Regions from separate parts of the Homo sapiens genome. Here all the other regions are linked to region 3. Evidence: fine-mapped expression QTL. A gene starts in region 3. Each other region holds a variant in brackets. All regions are shown on one strand. Distances are between the middles of the regions. Region 1 overlaps EVC (EvC ciliary complex subunit 1). Region 2 overlaps EVC (EvC ciliary complex subunit 1). Region 3 holds the start of EVC (EvC ciliary complex subunit 1).

Region 1 (5,000 bases), 34 kb after region 3:
ACTTTCTAAAAAGGGGACAGTAACTTCTGGGTTGTTGCCATGGAAAAGGGTGGTAACTTTTGGGTTGTTGACATGGCATTTGTAATCTGTGGTTGTGCTGGTGGGAGTGTCTTATGCTAATGAGCAATGAGGGCAGCAAGGGATCACTTTCATCACCATCCACTGGTTCCTGCCGGTTTCTTCACTTTATCCTGTCTGGACCAGATCCCATTTTGATCAGCAGGGTTGTGATCAGAAAACAAGTCCTGCCAGTCTCCTACCTCACCTTATCCTCACCATCATTGTCATCATTATTCTCGTTACTACTATCACCAGCCTCTTATTCATCATCCCCTGCCATCATTTTCATTATCATCATCATTGTTATTGTCATCATTTTCATTACTGCCATCGTCATCGCATCATTGTTGTGATAGTCTTCATCAGCACCACCATCATCACCATCTTCATCAGCACCACCATCACCACCTTTATCATCTTTCCTGCTACCTCTACCTTCACCTTCATTAGAGTCCTCATTGTCATCGTCATCGTCCTTGTTCCTACCACTGTGAGATCTGGGGGTTTGGGAAGGAATGTTTCTTCTTTACTCCACTGGATTCCATGAGGAAGGATGACTCACTGCATCCCAGGAAGGAGGAAGGACATCATCATCTTCACTGTCATCCTCAGTATCACCACCATGGTCATGGTCCTCAGGCAGTGCACGTCGTGCTTGACATACATTATTTCATTTAATAGTTATGACAGCCCTGTGAGTGGCCATTGTTATTTTTGTTTTACAGCTGAAGAAACTGAGACTCCATAAGTTCAAATGACTTTCCAATGGCAAAAATGATAATGATGATGATGACATTTATAATGGTATTAGTAATAATGAAACAATACTGTCTGTTATAATAGAAAGAATAAGAGCCTTGGAGTCTGCAGACCTCAGATCAAATTCCATCTCTACGAGTTAAACAAGGCTGTCTGAACTTAAGCAAGCATGTTAATTATAATAGTGGCTACTATTTGTTGAGATAGGCTAGCCAAGTGATTTAAATGCATAATTTCATTTAACACTTGGAATGACCTTAAAACTTTCAGAAGAGGACAAGGAGTGCCCAGAATTTGGAAGAGTAAGGACAAGCCTGGCACTGCCCCTTCCTGCCTGGGCATCTTTGGACAAACTATCTTACCTTCCATAAACCAGCTTTCTCACCTGGAAATGGGTCATAATTTCTCTTTCACAGAGATGCCGTGAGGATTAGAAATCACATATGGCCTCAGCTTGGGTCTTCAATAGTAGTTTATATCAATGTTATTTTTCCTAGTGAACCTTGACCCATGCCACACTGTTGGCTATGTGACAATGAATATAGAGAAAATAGAACTGCCTCCCACACACTATCTTGGGGTTTGTGAGTCTATACTTAGGACTCACCTTTTCCTTCCTGAGTTCAGAATCATTTGAGAGAGTCAGGAGGACAGATATAGAAATGTAGCTTTGTTACTGATTAGAGGCCAGCTTGGACGATGTGGCTTACATGCACAGCTATCATGGCTTCCTAATACTGAATCCCAGAATTCACTCAATTGCCTAGCTAGTCACGGGCAATGCTGGGCCACCTCAGGCTTCCCCACACAGAAACAGGGCCTTGGCTACCCAGCTCACTCTAGGCTGATATCACACCAGAGCAATGGCCTCCCCTGATTGGCCCATCACAAACAGGAAGAGGCTGGGCAAGTTTCTGGCCTTTAAACCAACCAATCAAATACACACCACTTCCTGCCCTGGGGTGTTGTTCTTTCCCAGGAAAACCAGAAGAGGAGCAAAGAAACATTCCTTCCCAACCCACTGGATGTCATGATATTTTCCAGGACTTCATAATGATTGAAAGATACTATTTTATTGATTTTTAAAGTATGGTCTAGTTTTTTTTTTTTTTTTGAGGGAGGATATAGAGGAAAATAATCCATTATTCTTGAGGCTCTATGTTTAATGAGAAAATGGGTCAAACCTCATGTACAACAACCCCCAGAGCATTTAACTATTGTTTAAAAATATTTTGTGAAATTTGAAAAATAAAAGCATTTATTTTTCTAGAATTTAAGACACGCTAAACTTTTTCTTTGTTTATTTGCTTTCTTTTTTCTTCTTCTTCTTCAGGATTTGGAGGAACTAGAAAAGGGACTTCAGGTCAAACTGTCAAACACAGAAATGTCGGGGGCTGGTGACTCTGAGTACATCACCCTGGCTGATGTGGAAAAGAAGGAGAGAGAATACTCTGAACAGCTAATCGATAATGTGCGTGCC[A/G]GACTTTCTTTCCTGTACACAAATTTTGGTTCCTAAAACAGTTAAATTGGCTACATTAGAGAGATGATAGTTAGAAGTGTGCCTAATACTTGAATTCCCCTATCGCATTCTGCCCTAGAGGCAGGATCCAGTTTCTGATGCTAAGTGATAGGGAAGAAGTAATTAAGCAGCAAAGATTCACAAAGGGAGGTTTATTTTTTATATCATGAATTATCCTCATTTAAATTTCAGATTGGTCTTTTTATCATTCAAAGCAAAGGTTGCTATAACCCTTGATGTCATCACTGCCCTTTGGAATAGAGTAGAAGAAAGCTGCTAGGCATCACTCGTGAAAGCAAGTTTTAAATTCCAGACAGAATGGCTTCTCTGAAACATCGTTTTTCTTTTCTTTTGGGTTCCACCACCCCCTGTTCATATATTATGTATTAAACAAACATGTCCTTGGCACTTGCTCTTCACCAGGGATTGTGCTGGGCACTGGGGACTCAAAAATCATTTAGACATGGCCCTGCCTGAGAGAGGCCAGGAGAGACAAACAGGTGAACAGATGAGGGCTTCACAGAGTGACACATCTTGTGATAGAAGGAAGCACAGGAGAAGGCCCGAGGCAGGCACAGTGGAGGGAAGAGTTCATTTTACCCCAGGCTTAGGAAAGCCTCCGTAGAAGAAGGGACCATGGAGAGGCTGGCCGGGAGAAGTGTGGGTGCTGGCCAGTGGTGGGGCAGAGATGGGAGCTAAAGAGGGCTGAGAGCAAGTCGAGGTAAGGTAAAGCCAGAGGGATCTGGCCAGAGGGCTTGTTTGTGTCTTAAGCCAGCGAGATGGGAGTGTCTATTGCCAGCGAGGTGGGAGTCACTGAAGCTTTGAAGCAGGGGGTGGCTGGCTTCAGCTTCTGCTTTAGAAGGGCTGCCCAGGCACTGAGTGGAGGGTGGTGAAGAGCTACTGGGCTAATCCAGCAGGAACTTTATTAAGGCAACTGCAGTAGGATGGAGAGGTGAGGAAACGTGTGAGAGAAGCTGTGGTGGTCTACCATGGGGCGGCAGGTGGGGAGGAGGAGGGGGTCCAGGGTCAGTGCTGCTGAAATAAGCGCCCCAGAGCAAGATGCTCATGGGAGGGAGGGAGCCAATGCTCCTGTCCTCTGAATAGGTCCAATATTGAGAGGAGAGGCTTGGAGATGGAGGGTCTCCATGAGAGCCCAGGTTAGAGGACTTTGAGGGCCAGAATGTTCTTAGAACTGTGGGCCAGGATGCTAAGGAAGAGGGCCAGCCTGGATTCCGGTGGTCCACAGAACCCCCAACGCTGTGTGCAGTATCTTGTCCATGTCTGCCTTTCTCAGGGACAGGGTTCAGAATTTTCATAAGATTCTCCAAAGTATTGGTGACCTCCAAAAATGGTGACCTCTGGCCTAGAAATGGTGTGTAAAATGGGAAGAGAAAAGAGCTTTGGTGCCAAATCCTGGATCCTGCCCATATTTAAGGAGGAGCGGATGAGAAGAATTGGGACAAGAAAGCAGAGGAGGAATTGGATGGGCTTTGCAGAAGCAGGAGAAAATCATGTCATGGACGCCAAGAGAATCAGGAGTTTGTAAGCAGAGCGGGCTGTGTAGAGTTGGCAGGTGACAGTCTGCAGTCACGTGGCAGGTGGAAGGCAGGTCATCTGATGGCTCCAAGGGGAAGAGCAGGGTGAGAGCCTGAGGGTGTCAGGCAGGTTTGAGGTCCCTCCTGGCAGGGATGAGAGGAGGAGCAGCATGTATGGGGTTTACTGGGAGGCAATGGGGCCCTGAGATGGGGAGCCGCATTGATGAGGGGTGTTCATCTGGGTGCAGGCTTCCTCCTGGCAGAGCCAGACCGACACCGCAGTTGAGGCTGACAGAGTTTCATGATCTTGAGTCACAGCAACAAAATCATGGGTTTCTGGTGACACTAACCCCTGCCCCCTCCCATGCCCAGTCCAGCCAGAAGTGTCCATTTCAGCCTCTCAGAGGCTGAGCCAAGATGGAGGCAACCTCAGCCGTGGAGTTAAATGGACCTGAACCAAATCCGGGCTTTCACTGGGTCCATGACCTCTGACAAGTGACCTAACTCCCCCGAGCCTGTTCCTACACCTCTAGATACATACTTTATCATGATATCAAATGTGTGAAGCACAGAGCCTGGCGAACAGCCTGTGGGCCATGAGGGAAAGTTGCTCCGATTCCTAGTGTCATTGTCCTTAGAGCTCTGACTGGCTGTGATGACTCAATTAAACCTCCTGCATTCTAAGCCACTTGGGAATTCCCAGCTCTGCTCCTGATAAAATGAGGGGGAGGGAAGATTTTAAAGCAAAATGTTTTCATGGTCAGCATCCTCTCTGCCATATTAAGCTTTTGTACTTTTAGGACAATAACTAATATTTAAACATCTGTTTATGCTTTTACTTCCAGGAAGTATTTAATCCCATTTAAAATTGCCAAAGCTTCCATGAGCACATTGTCACATTTCATCGGCCCCTAGGTAGCTGTAATGACCTGTGCAAGAGTCTGTAGGCTGGACAAGCTACTGCTTTCTTTCCTTAGCAGCAGTGCTCTCGTGTCTGCTGAAACACCATTGCAAAACTGACTGACACTGGAACCAGACAATGGAACCAGAAAGAACTTCACTGTAGAACGTGATTGTTGCCAAGATAAACTCACTGAAACTGTAGAATTGTTTAGAATCTTTGTTTG
Region 2 (5,000 bases), 46 kb after region 3:
TCAGTGAGACCAAGGAAGGGGCAGCCCCAGCCTCACTGTTTGCCTGGGTCCGCCTGCCCTCCGTCAACACTTGGTACAGCACATCTCAGTTCTGCCAAGGGGTGGGTGGCACCATGTCTGGGTCCAGGCTCAGCCCAGAATAGAGGCCCAGGGGCTCTCCCTGGGGGCCAAGCTGGTGGTGGTGGCACCACTGCAGTGAGAAGCCAATGGAGGGGTCCCCCGAGAACAGAGGACAGGCCTCTAGGTCCCTGGTCCAGCTGCCTCCCTCACCCAGGGGGCCTCTTCCAGGCCCATACTTGGAGCTTCTGCATTTGCCACAAAGGGGTAGGGTAGGTTTTTCTATCTTTGAGACCCATTTGAAATAAGAGGAAGATAAGGCTATTCAGCTCCTCGTTATTTGGATATTTCTGGGCCCCTGTCCTTGATGTCACAGAGCCCAGTGTGAGTCCAGAGTGTGGAGACAGTGCCTGGGTGACCTTGGTGTCCCAGGGCCTCGGTACAGTCCTCGGAACGCCTCAGCGCTGGCGTTCAGGACACGTGGGACGCAGGCAGGGAAGGGTGAATGAGCGCATGCGTGCCTGAATGAACCAGGACATGGACAAATGGGCAAACGAGCGAATGAAGGAGGATGGAATGGGTGGGAGAATGAACGAACGACACCAGGCTCCCAGTACACACTCAGCACCCACCTTTTTCCAGTCCCGCCCTTCTCTCTCATCTCACCTCCTGCCCGTAGCATCACCAAAGATCTTAGGGGGTTTACCTCCTGGTCTCTGCTGCTGCTCGCTGAGCCTGGCTCCCCATCTTCCCTCCAAGGAGTCCTTCCTTGTCCTTAGAGACTCCATTGAAACATCTCCCCAACAGGGAATTTTCTCCTGCAACCCTTCCCTGAGAAGGGTCTGTTCCTCTGTCCTTCTGCCCCACCTCGCCCCTCGCTGATGCTCTGTTTAGGGCTGGCTGGGTCTCCCCCTGCTGATGCCCGGGTTAGCCCAGTCTCCTGCTGCTCTGCTGGGGTCCTCAGGGAAGGGCCTCCACCCCGTGGTCACAGTGGGGCCTGGCTGGTTGCTGACTGCACTGACCTCCAATCGCCAGTCTGTGTCACCCCTGCTGGGTTCCCATCAGTGGGTCTTCCATGGCCTGGGTGGTCAGAAAGTGATGTCTGGGTGGCTGCAGCCAGGACAGAGGAGTGACAGAAGTGGTCCAGTGGCCCCTCCTCATCCTGGCTTTAACAAAAGCGTGGTGGTTTGTGGTGTTTCCTGGAAATCGGATTTGCTGACCCTGGCATCAGCTGTGAAAGCCATGTGACAGCCCCATGCCTCAGTTTCCTTGTGTGTAATACAGGTGCCAACATCCTTCTTTCTAACCTGAGATGCAGGGGATGGTTGGAGAACCTTCTGGAAAAAAAAAAAAAAACCCTGCATGTTTCTACCAGACTCAGCTCTTGTTTTCCTCACAGGCTTTTCATGAGGTCCTGGAGAGGCAGAGGCTGATGCAGTGTGACCTGGAGGAAGAGGAGAATGTCAGAGCCACCGAGGCTGTGGTTGCACTCTGCCAGGTACATGGCCTCTGTGGGGACCAGCAGAGAAGCCCCAGGGTCTGTGTGTGTGCGAGAACCTCACATCCTCCTGGCTGGGGACCCCAGAGGTGGTTCAGGTCCAACCCCGCACTCATTGGCCGGTGATCCACGCAGGCTGTGTCCCCTCCATGCGATCCTCCTTGCCCACATCAGAAACCGAGGCAGTTGGCCTTGGTCCTCTCTGAGGCACCGTCCATTTTTGGGGTGCTGAGGATTCTTATCTCCACACATCCCTGTCAGCAAAGCTCTTTGGAAATCCGTTCTCCCCAGGTGAGAAATAGGCCCAGGGTTTCTGGGTGTCATCAGTGTAAAGTGGTGATGAAGAAGGGGTTCTGGGCTGAAATGGGGACGTCAGAGATCACATGCCACACCACCTCTTTCCCCTGTGCAACCGTGTGCAGGTCTGGGGTGGGGAGGTGAAGCTGGCCATGCTTGCCCTGCAGGGTGACTTTCAGAGAGCAGGAGAGGGCACCTGAGCCCTCTTTAGGGGCAGGAGTCACAGGATGCCATGCTGAGCCAGACAGAGCCCCTGCCTCAGGCAGCATCCTCAGTTGTTGGAAAGACAGGAGTGTGGACACCTGGCTATGAAGGAATCAACCAGTGGGTGTTGGGCAGCACTGGGAGGAGGAGAGGGCCTGGGTCTGTGTCCTGGCTCCCCGCTTCCTCACTGCGTGACCACAGGAGCATCACTTGGCCTCTAGCCCTCAGTTTCCCCATCTGTGAAATGGGGACAGTCATAATTCTTCTTCATGGTGTGC[T/C]AGGAGGACTGTGTTTGGGGACCCGAGACAGCAGCTGGCACTCGGAACACCCCAGGGCACGTTGTCTCCAGTGACAGCTTCCCTGCTTCTGAGTGCAGAGGAGAGGCAAGGGGCTCCTGGGTGAAGGTGACGTCAAGGACAGCAGCCTGTAGGAGGCATTGCTGAGCCAAGCATTGGATGAGACCAGGCCCAAGTGGACAAGGAGTCAGCGGGCATCCCCATCAGGGAGAAGCTCATGCAGTGGTGGGAAGTGCAACTCCTCACCCGGATGGGAGCTGCACTGGGGTCAGTCATGTCTCTGTTAACCTGCTAGGGCTGCCGTGGTGAATACCACTGACTGGTGGGTTAAACAACAGAAAAGCGTTCTCTCAAGGTTCTGGAGGCTGAAGCCCGAGATCACGGTGCCAACAGGATTGACTTCTGGTGAGGCCTCTCTTCCGGGCTTGCAGACAGCTGCCTTCCCGTTGCCTCCTCACACGGTTATTTCTCTGTGCTTGGAAGACTGAAGGGCAGGGGAGAGAATGAAAGAGAGGGCTCTGGTCTCTCCCTTTTCTTATAAGGACACCAGTTCTATGGGATTAGGGCCCCACCCTGATGACCTCATCTAACCTTAATTACCTCCTTAAAGGCCCTGTCTCCAAATACAGCCACATGGGATATTGGAGGTTAGAGCTTCAACATAAGAATTTGATTACTTAATTACCTCCAAATACAGTCACATGGGATATTGGAGGTTAGGGCTTCAACCTAAGAATTTTGGAGGGAGACACAATTTAGTCCAAACAGTGTCCTTCAAAACGTCATGTCCATCTGGAACCTCGGAATGTGGCCACACTTGGAAATAAGGGCTTTGCAGATGTAATTGGTTAGATCGCACAGTTGGTTAGGTCCTACTGGATTCGGGTGGGCCCTAATTCTAATGGCTGGTGTCCTTATAAGAAGGCCATGAGAAGACATAGAGACACAGGGAAGGAGGCTGTTTGAAGACAGAAGGAGGGACTGGAGTGATGCAGCCACAAGCCGAGGAACACCTGCAGCCACCAAAAGCCAGAAGAGCCCAGGAAGGGCCCCTCCCAGAGCCTTTGGAGGGGGCGAGGCTCTGCCAACACCTTGGTTTCATACTAATGCCCTCCGGAACGGTGAGAGAATAAACTTCGTTGTCTTAATGCACCCAGTTTGCGGCGCTTTGTCATGGCAGCCACAGGAAACTAAACGGAAGGCGATCTTTGTTCAGGGCTAGCTCCTATCTTAAGTGCCTCTTGAGTATTTGATTATTTAATTCTCATGAGATTCATGAGGAAGACACTGCATTTTCCTTCCTTCCCAGATGAGGAGTGAAGAAGTGTTTTCTCCAGAAATGGGTAGGATGGGGCTCAATTTGTCAAAGCCCTGGGGCCCACAGACAGGAAAGGAACAACTTTGTCCCCAGAGGAGTCAAGACTCACATCCCTGGCTGGGCATGGGGAAACCAAGTTCTAATCTTCCTCTGAGTGCTAACATGCTGTGTGACCTTGGCTGGTTACATAACCTGTCTGTGCTGGCCCATGTATCTTGCCCAGGTTTTACACAGCTAGCAAGCGGGGAAGGTGAGATTTAAAATAAAGGCTTTCTAATGTTAGTGCTGATGTGCTCACCCCAACCATGCTGCTCAGTGTTGACGGCTGTTGTGAAACCTCGCTTCTTGTGTTTTTAGTTTAAAAGTATGTAAACAAGAGACCACAGTAAAGGGGATGCAGCACAGAGCAATTTATTGCAAAGGAGAAAGAATGTTCTGAAAGTTAGGTGCAGAATAGACAGGATGCCCTGGGAGATGATTCAGAGCAGATGAGACAGCCTTGACTTACCGGGGAAACTCCCTTTCTGGGGAGTCTTATGTGATTATTCATAAGGGCGTGGGAAGAAGCATTATTAGTAAGCATGTTGTGGAGGGCGGTGGGGGCGGGTCCTCTGAGTGCCCAGGCACAGTAGCTGTACACACTTGTTCATACGTCACATGTCTCATTAGCATCTTAAGTCTCCGTCCAAAGGTGTGTTTTTTACTATTATAATGGCGCAGAGGGTCAGTCTGAGGACAGATAAAATCAAAGTGCACCTGCCGACTGCAGGAGACGTTGCCTACTGCAGATAACTGCTTGAAAGAGCCAGACTACAGTGTAAATGCTGAGGCTTACTGTGTTGATGGTTTGGTCGCCGCATCCCAAGGACATGGTCACTTCCTTGACTACCTATCCTGCCTTACGTGTGGGCTGTGGAGCATAATGGTGAAGCCCAGGCTCTGGAGCCAGACATCTGGGGTTCAAATTCCCAGCCGGGCCACTTATTTCCCCTGCCGGAGGTGAGCCCAGGTGGCCCAGAGGCTATGGGCGGCGGGGGTGGTTTCAGCAGCATTCTCCTCCTCACCCCCTATGGTAGCTTATTGGATTCTCACCCATCCTCTCTAAAGCAGTTCTCAAACCTTGCTGTGCATCAGAATGTCATCAAGATTAAGGAAATTGAGGTACAGGTTAGATCACTTGCTCACAATTACACAACCAGGCTGACAGCCTGAGTAAAACCCTATCAATGATTGCTGCAAAGGGTAAGCCAAGCAGTATATAAATGTAAACCCAGAACATCTGAGACGGGTCTCAGTTCATTTAGAAAGTTTATTTTGCCAAGGTTGAGGC
Region 3 (5,092 bases):
CTCAGTGCGAGCCGCCGCCGAAAGTTTTCTGGAACAAACACCCGCATCTGGGGCTTGGCGGGCCAGGAGGTGCCGGACGGGCGTGGGAGGGGGAGAGCGAGTTGGCGCGGCCCAGGCGCCCGGCGGCCAGGCCTGGGTTTGCTTGCGCCCAAACCGAATCAGAGCGGGTCACTCCCCTGCTCCCCGAGGTTACCAGGACCCCAAGGGCCCCTCCGCTACCGCCTACCTGGGTCTGTAAGCCTCAGCTCAGACGCACTTCCCCTGGGAACGGTTTCCTGACACACGGATGTGAATCCAGAGTTTCCCCATCCCCGCTTAGAAAACGGAGAAGCATTTGGAGCGCGGGGCCGGGAGTCCTGGAGCACCCAGAAGGTTCAGGAAAGCTCGGGGAGGAGGGGGTGGCCGCAGAGAAGGAAAAGGACCCTCACTTCCGGTTGCGTTCAGTGCAGACCAGCTGAGCACCCACTGCCCGAGCCTGCTGTGGGTCAGCCCTGGGCCGGCCCGGGTGCCCCTCGCATTCCCAGTGGGAAACAGGCCAGCCGCTGGGCCACCTCTCTGGGGACCTAGAAAGAGGGGAGCTGGTGTCTGAAGTCGCAGCCCTAAGCAAGCTCTCCCTGAACTCTCCGAGGGGACAGGGATTTGCTTTGCCAAGGGACGCAGGAGGAGGAGGAGGAGAAAGACACAAAAAGGGGGACTGGTGGAGCCTTTTGTGTGCTTCCTCATCCCTGCCTAGGTCCTGGGTGACAGCTGACACCTGTTGACGGGGGAGGGCTCCACTCCCGCCAGCCTTCCTGCGGGGCAGGCTGTTAGGCTGTCTATAAAGTCTCAGGCCAGCGAGCCTGGCCCCTGGCAGCCTCTCTCCCCATAACCCAGACCATCCAAGGACAGGCCTTTCCTGACCTAACATGGACAAGGCCATGGGGTTCGAGAAGCTGAGAATTTATAAGCCAAGTTCCCCACACCAGGGGGTACGTGGCAGCTGTCAGGCATGTGACAAGACCACAGGCTAAATGCCAAGCATGTTGCTGGACCGTTGGAGTTGTTTGACAGTCAGTCATTTAAAGGTTAATTTAATAGTCAACAACTTTATGATAAAGTAAAAAGCAAATAACCCTACATTTAAAAAATCTCCTTAGTATTTTTTATGGAGTCAGGGTCTCACTATGTTGCCAAGACTGGTCTTAAACTCCTGGGCTCAGACAATCCTCCACTTGAGCCTCCCAAAGTGCTGGGATTACAGGCGTGAGCAACCACACCTGGCCCAAACACCACATTTTAAAAACTAAAGCCTAAGCATTCATGGAAATGTAAAACAAGAGCGTCAAGTTATTGCCCCCATACATGTCCCCAGGAACCTTGGAGATGCTTCTAAGGTAATATATAAGAAGCTCCACATAGCAGAGAGTTTGCCCTGAAGCCAGACACAGGTGTAAATGAGACAAGAATTCTGCCCCACTCCTTAATTGCAAATGAGTCACCTCTCCTCTCCAGCTGTCAGTTTCTTCATTTATTAAAAAAAGATGAAGAATTTGGATAACAGTTCCCATCTTGCCATGAGGAAATGATGAAACAAACTAGAAACAAGCTGGACATCTAGGCTGAAAGGACAAAGCCCTCCTCTGCTGAAGCAGATCCCCATGGTGTCCCCTAGCCCGGCCCACACAGGGAATTAAGCTCCACAGGGTAGGTGTGTGTGTGTGTGTGCCCCTGAGTGCAAGTGTGCAGTCGTGCATGTGCATGTGTGCTTTACCCAGGCACCCAGGACAAAAGCAAACATCTAGTAGCTACCCCATAAATGTTTGTTTAAAGCAAACACAGTGATGAACTCCTTTAATTTTTTATCACTCTAAACAACTGTGAGATACTCACTAGCCTGGACACTGCCTGGTTTGTGGCTGGCCTATCCCCCAGCCTGCAACACACACACAACAGATTCTCTCCAAGTGCTGAGTAAATGAAGGATGGTGCAGTGTCCTGGTCCTAGTGGGGAGCGGGTGTAAGGGTCTCTTTATCCATTGTCTCAGTGGGGAGTGGGTGTAAGGGTCTCTCTACCCTTGGTCCTAGTGGGGACTAGGTGTAAGGGTCTCTCTACCCATCGTCTCAGTGGGGTCTGGGTGTAAGGATCCCTTTACCCATCCTCCTAGTGGAGACTGAGTGTAACGGTGTCTCCACCCATTGTCTCGACCTTCCCTGGGACAAAATAAGATTAAAACAGGAGTCTTCGCGTGAGCAAGTTCAGAGGCGTGGAGGGCGGTGTGTTCCCGGGAAGGTTGATGGGTAGAGGTTAGGGGCAAGGGCAGGGGGTTGGAATTGCATTGATCCCAGCGTCTTCATCAGGAGGATGGGCGGAGCACCCACCGCAGAGGGTTATTGAGAAAGTTAATGAGATCATTAAGCTAAATGCGTAGCATATTCTAAGCCTCAAAAAACTTAAAGGAGCCTTCTAAGCCTCAGTAAAGTTAAAGGGGTGGAAACCGGGCCCCCCTCCGGAAGGGTCCGGGGCTGGGAGGCGCGTCTGTCTCTGGGCATGCTCAGTGCAGGGGCAGGGCTGGGGCGGGGGTGGCTGAAAGTTTTGAGCGGTGATCCAGGCTCCTCCCTCCGGCTCGGCGAAGCAGGGAAGGGGAGAGAAGCAGGAGTCGGGAGACTGCACAGGCCAGAAAGTCTGCGGAGCGGGCCGCGCCCCTGGCCCGCCCGGGCTCCAAGTCCCGCGTCGCCGCCCTGGCGGGGACGGTGCAGCAGGCGGCGGGATGCGGCGGGGCGGCAGCCTGAGCGCCCCGGATGGCCCGCGGCGGGGCGGCCTGCAAGAGCGACGCGCGGCTGCTGCTGGGGCGGGACGCGCTGCGGCCGGCGCCCGCCCTGCTGGCCCCCGCCGTGCTGCTGGGCGCCGCGCTCGGCCTCGGCCTCGGCCTTTGGCTTGGCTGCCGCGCGGGCCGCCAGCGCACGCGACACCAGGTGGGTCGGCCGAGCAGACAGCGGCGGGGCGGGGAGCGCGGGGCGCGTGGCTTCTGGGTCCTGCGGGCCCGGAGCCCCGGCTCTGCGACTCCTTGAGCCTGGTTGGGAACTTCGCACGCAACCGCTTAGGCGTCGGGTTCCCCTTCTGCTCCAGGAGGGAGGTGGCGGCGTGACTAAAGGGCATTGGCCTGGGGTCCCCTGCGGTGCCTGTTACATCCCACTCCGTTGGGTGATCCTTGACAGCAGCCCAACTGCGCCACGCCTCGGTCTCCTCATCTGCAGCACCAAGGGTTTGGACAGGACGCTGGCCCTGCTCGCCATGGTGGACAGAAGGACGGCTGGGGCTCCCACGCCTGAATGCCTATTCCTGCTTCTGCCTCTTCCATCCTTGCGGTGTGGGTTACGTCGCCTGGCCTGAGTCCCAGCTGCCACATTGGCATTCATTTTTTCATTCACCCCACAGTAAAAGTTTTCAGGCACCTTCTACAGCCAGTCACTGGCCTAGGGACGACATTCATGAGCGGGAGAGACCCTGCCTTGAGGCTGTGAACCTCAAGGAGAAGGACGAATTGCAAGTTTGCAAGTAAACTATCGGTTATGACACCGCATGGGGAGTCTGCGATGGGACGCTGGCAATGCTAGCGTTTATTAAGTGCTGTGTACCAGGCACTGAACTAGACCCTCTCCCTAAATGATCTCAATGAATCTCCACAACAGTTTGTCTCTGCTTTGCAGATGAGGAAACTGAGGCACAGAGAGGTTAAGCAACTTACTAAAGTGACAGAAGTGTCTAACCCCAAAGCCACTGTGTTCTTCATGGATGAGGGTCGGGGTGGCTGCCTGAAGGAGACCAGTGGATGCTTCCTATGCAAGTGGCCCTCATGGAATTGGCTGTGCATGGCAACACCTGGCATATAGCAGGCATTCCATGAATAGTGGTATGGCCACTATTTTAGGTCCTTGCAACTTCTGCCTCTTTGGGGTGGGAGGAGAGTAAAGTCTGCGCGATCAGAAACAAGATGGCGTGGTCTTGCTACCCCCATTTCTGGCCCGTGGGAAGATGAGACAGATCTTGTGCGGTTTCCATGTAGGCACAGGCTCTTTCAGAATATAGGGGAATTTGGTGACTCATGGGGAGCATTACACCGCAAAGAGCTGATGAGGGCTGAAACTGAGATAATGCAAGATGCTCGTAGGTGAGTTGGGGGTTGTCAGATCCTGCTGGTGATTAAGAGACACTAAGAGATGCTGGCTTGTTGCATGGAGAGAGAAAGGGAAGTAACACACAGAGACTTGGCTGGGTGTCCTGTGCAATGTTTATAGACATCTGGTTCTTTATCCTCCAGCCCATGAGGTGGAGGAACTGCCATTATCCCCACTTTACAGTGAGGCAGGGGATGCTCTGCAAGGGTGTTTGTCCAGGGTGCCACGATGAGTAAACAGTGGGACTGAATTTCAACCCTAGTTGGTTTGAACCCCAAAGCTAGAGCCTTAAGTATCTGCTACCTGGTGAGGTGGTGGTTAGTATCCCATTTGCTAGCTGAGTCAGCTGAGGCTTACCGGGATTAACCAAGCCATCTGGGTTTGCACAGCTAGTCAGTTGAGGGTGATGGTGGCTCAGACCAGGGTGGCAGCCATGGAGGGGTCTGTGGCTCAAAGTAGGACTAATAGGATTTTGTTACAGTTTGATGTGATCCTTGCGACAACCTTCTTTCTAATGAGATTCTTTTCCTCCTGTCTCCTCCCTCTAGTTTTTATTTATAAAATGTATGTCAGACAATATGATTCTCCTGATTAAACACCTCCAGTGACTCCTGGCTGCCTGCAAAAGATAATGCCCAGGCTGGGCACTGTGGCTCATGCCTGTCACCCCAGCACTTTGGGAGGCCAAGGCGAGCTGTTCAACTGAGGTCAGGAGTTCGAGACCAGCCTGGCCAATATGGTGAAACCCTGCCTCTACTAAAAATACAAAAATTAGCTGGCATAGTGGCAGGAGCCTGTAATCCCAGCTACTCAGGAGGCTGAGGCAGGAGAATCGCTGGAACCTGGGAGGCGGAGGTTGCAGTGAGCCAAGATCGCACCATTGCACTCCAGCCTGGGCGATAGAGCAAGGCTCCGTCTCAAAAAAAAAAAAAAAAAA

The links. PIP is the estimated chance that this variant, and not a neighbour inherited with it, causes the effect. A credible set is the group of variants that fine-mapping cannot tell apart.
Region 1: its variant is the best candidate, but not a certain one, in a credible set for the expression of EVC in esophagus muscle (GTEx, PIP 0.55).
Region 2: its variant is the best candidate, but not a certain one, in a credible set for the expression of EVC in fibroblasts (GTEx, PIP 0.71).

Annotation. Positions count from the first base shown.
Region 1 is chr4:5,743,052-5,748,051 of GRCh38, forward strand. It overlaps EVC (EvC ciliary complex subunit 1), which reads left to right. Exons shown (of 21, transcript NM_153717.3): 7 at 2,153-2,290. Among named protein-coding and RNA genes, the nearest start is that of EVC, 34 kb to the left of the region's middle. The variant A/G (reference allele first, on the strand shown) is at 2,300.
Region 2 is chr4:5,754,808-5,759,807 of GRCh38, forward strand. It overlaps EVC (EvC ciliary complex subunit 1), which reads left to right. Exons shown (of 21, transcript NM_153717.3): 11 at 1,457-1,555. Among named protein-coding and RNA genes, the nearest start is that of EVC, 46 kb to the left of the region's middle. RefSeq lists enhancers at 3,595-4,794, 4,463-4,512. The variant T/C (reference allele first, on the strand shown) is at 2,335.
Region 3 is chr4:5,708,603-5,713,694 of GRCh38, forward strand. It overlaps EVC (EvC ciliary complex subunit 1), which reads left to right and starts at 2,599. Exons shown (of 21, transcript NM_153717.3): 1 at 2,599-2,952. The coding sequence starts at 2,779. It also overlaps a transcript of EVC2 not described here. RefSeq lists enhancers at 1-516, 3,278-3,347, 3,933-4,242 and silencers at 1-46, 2,558-2,607, 2,658-2,807.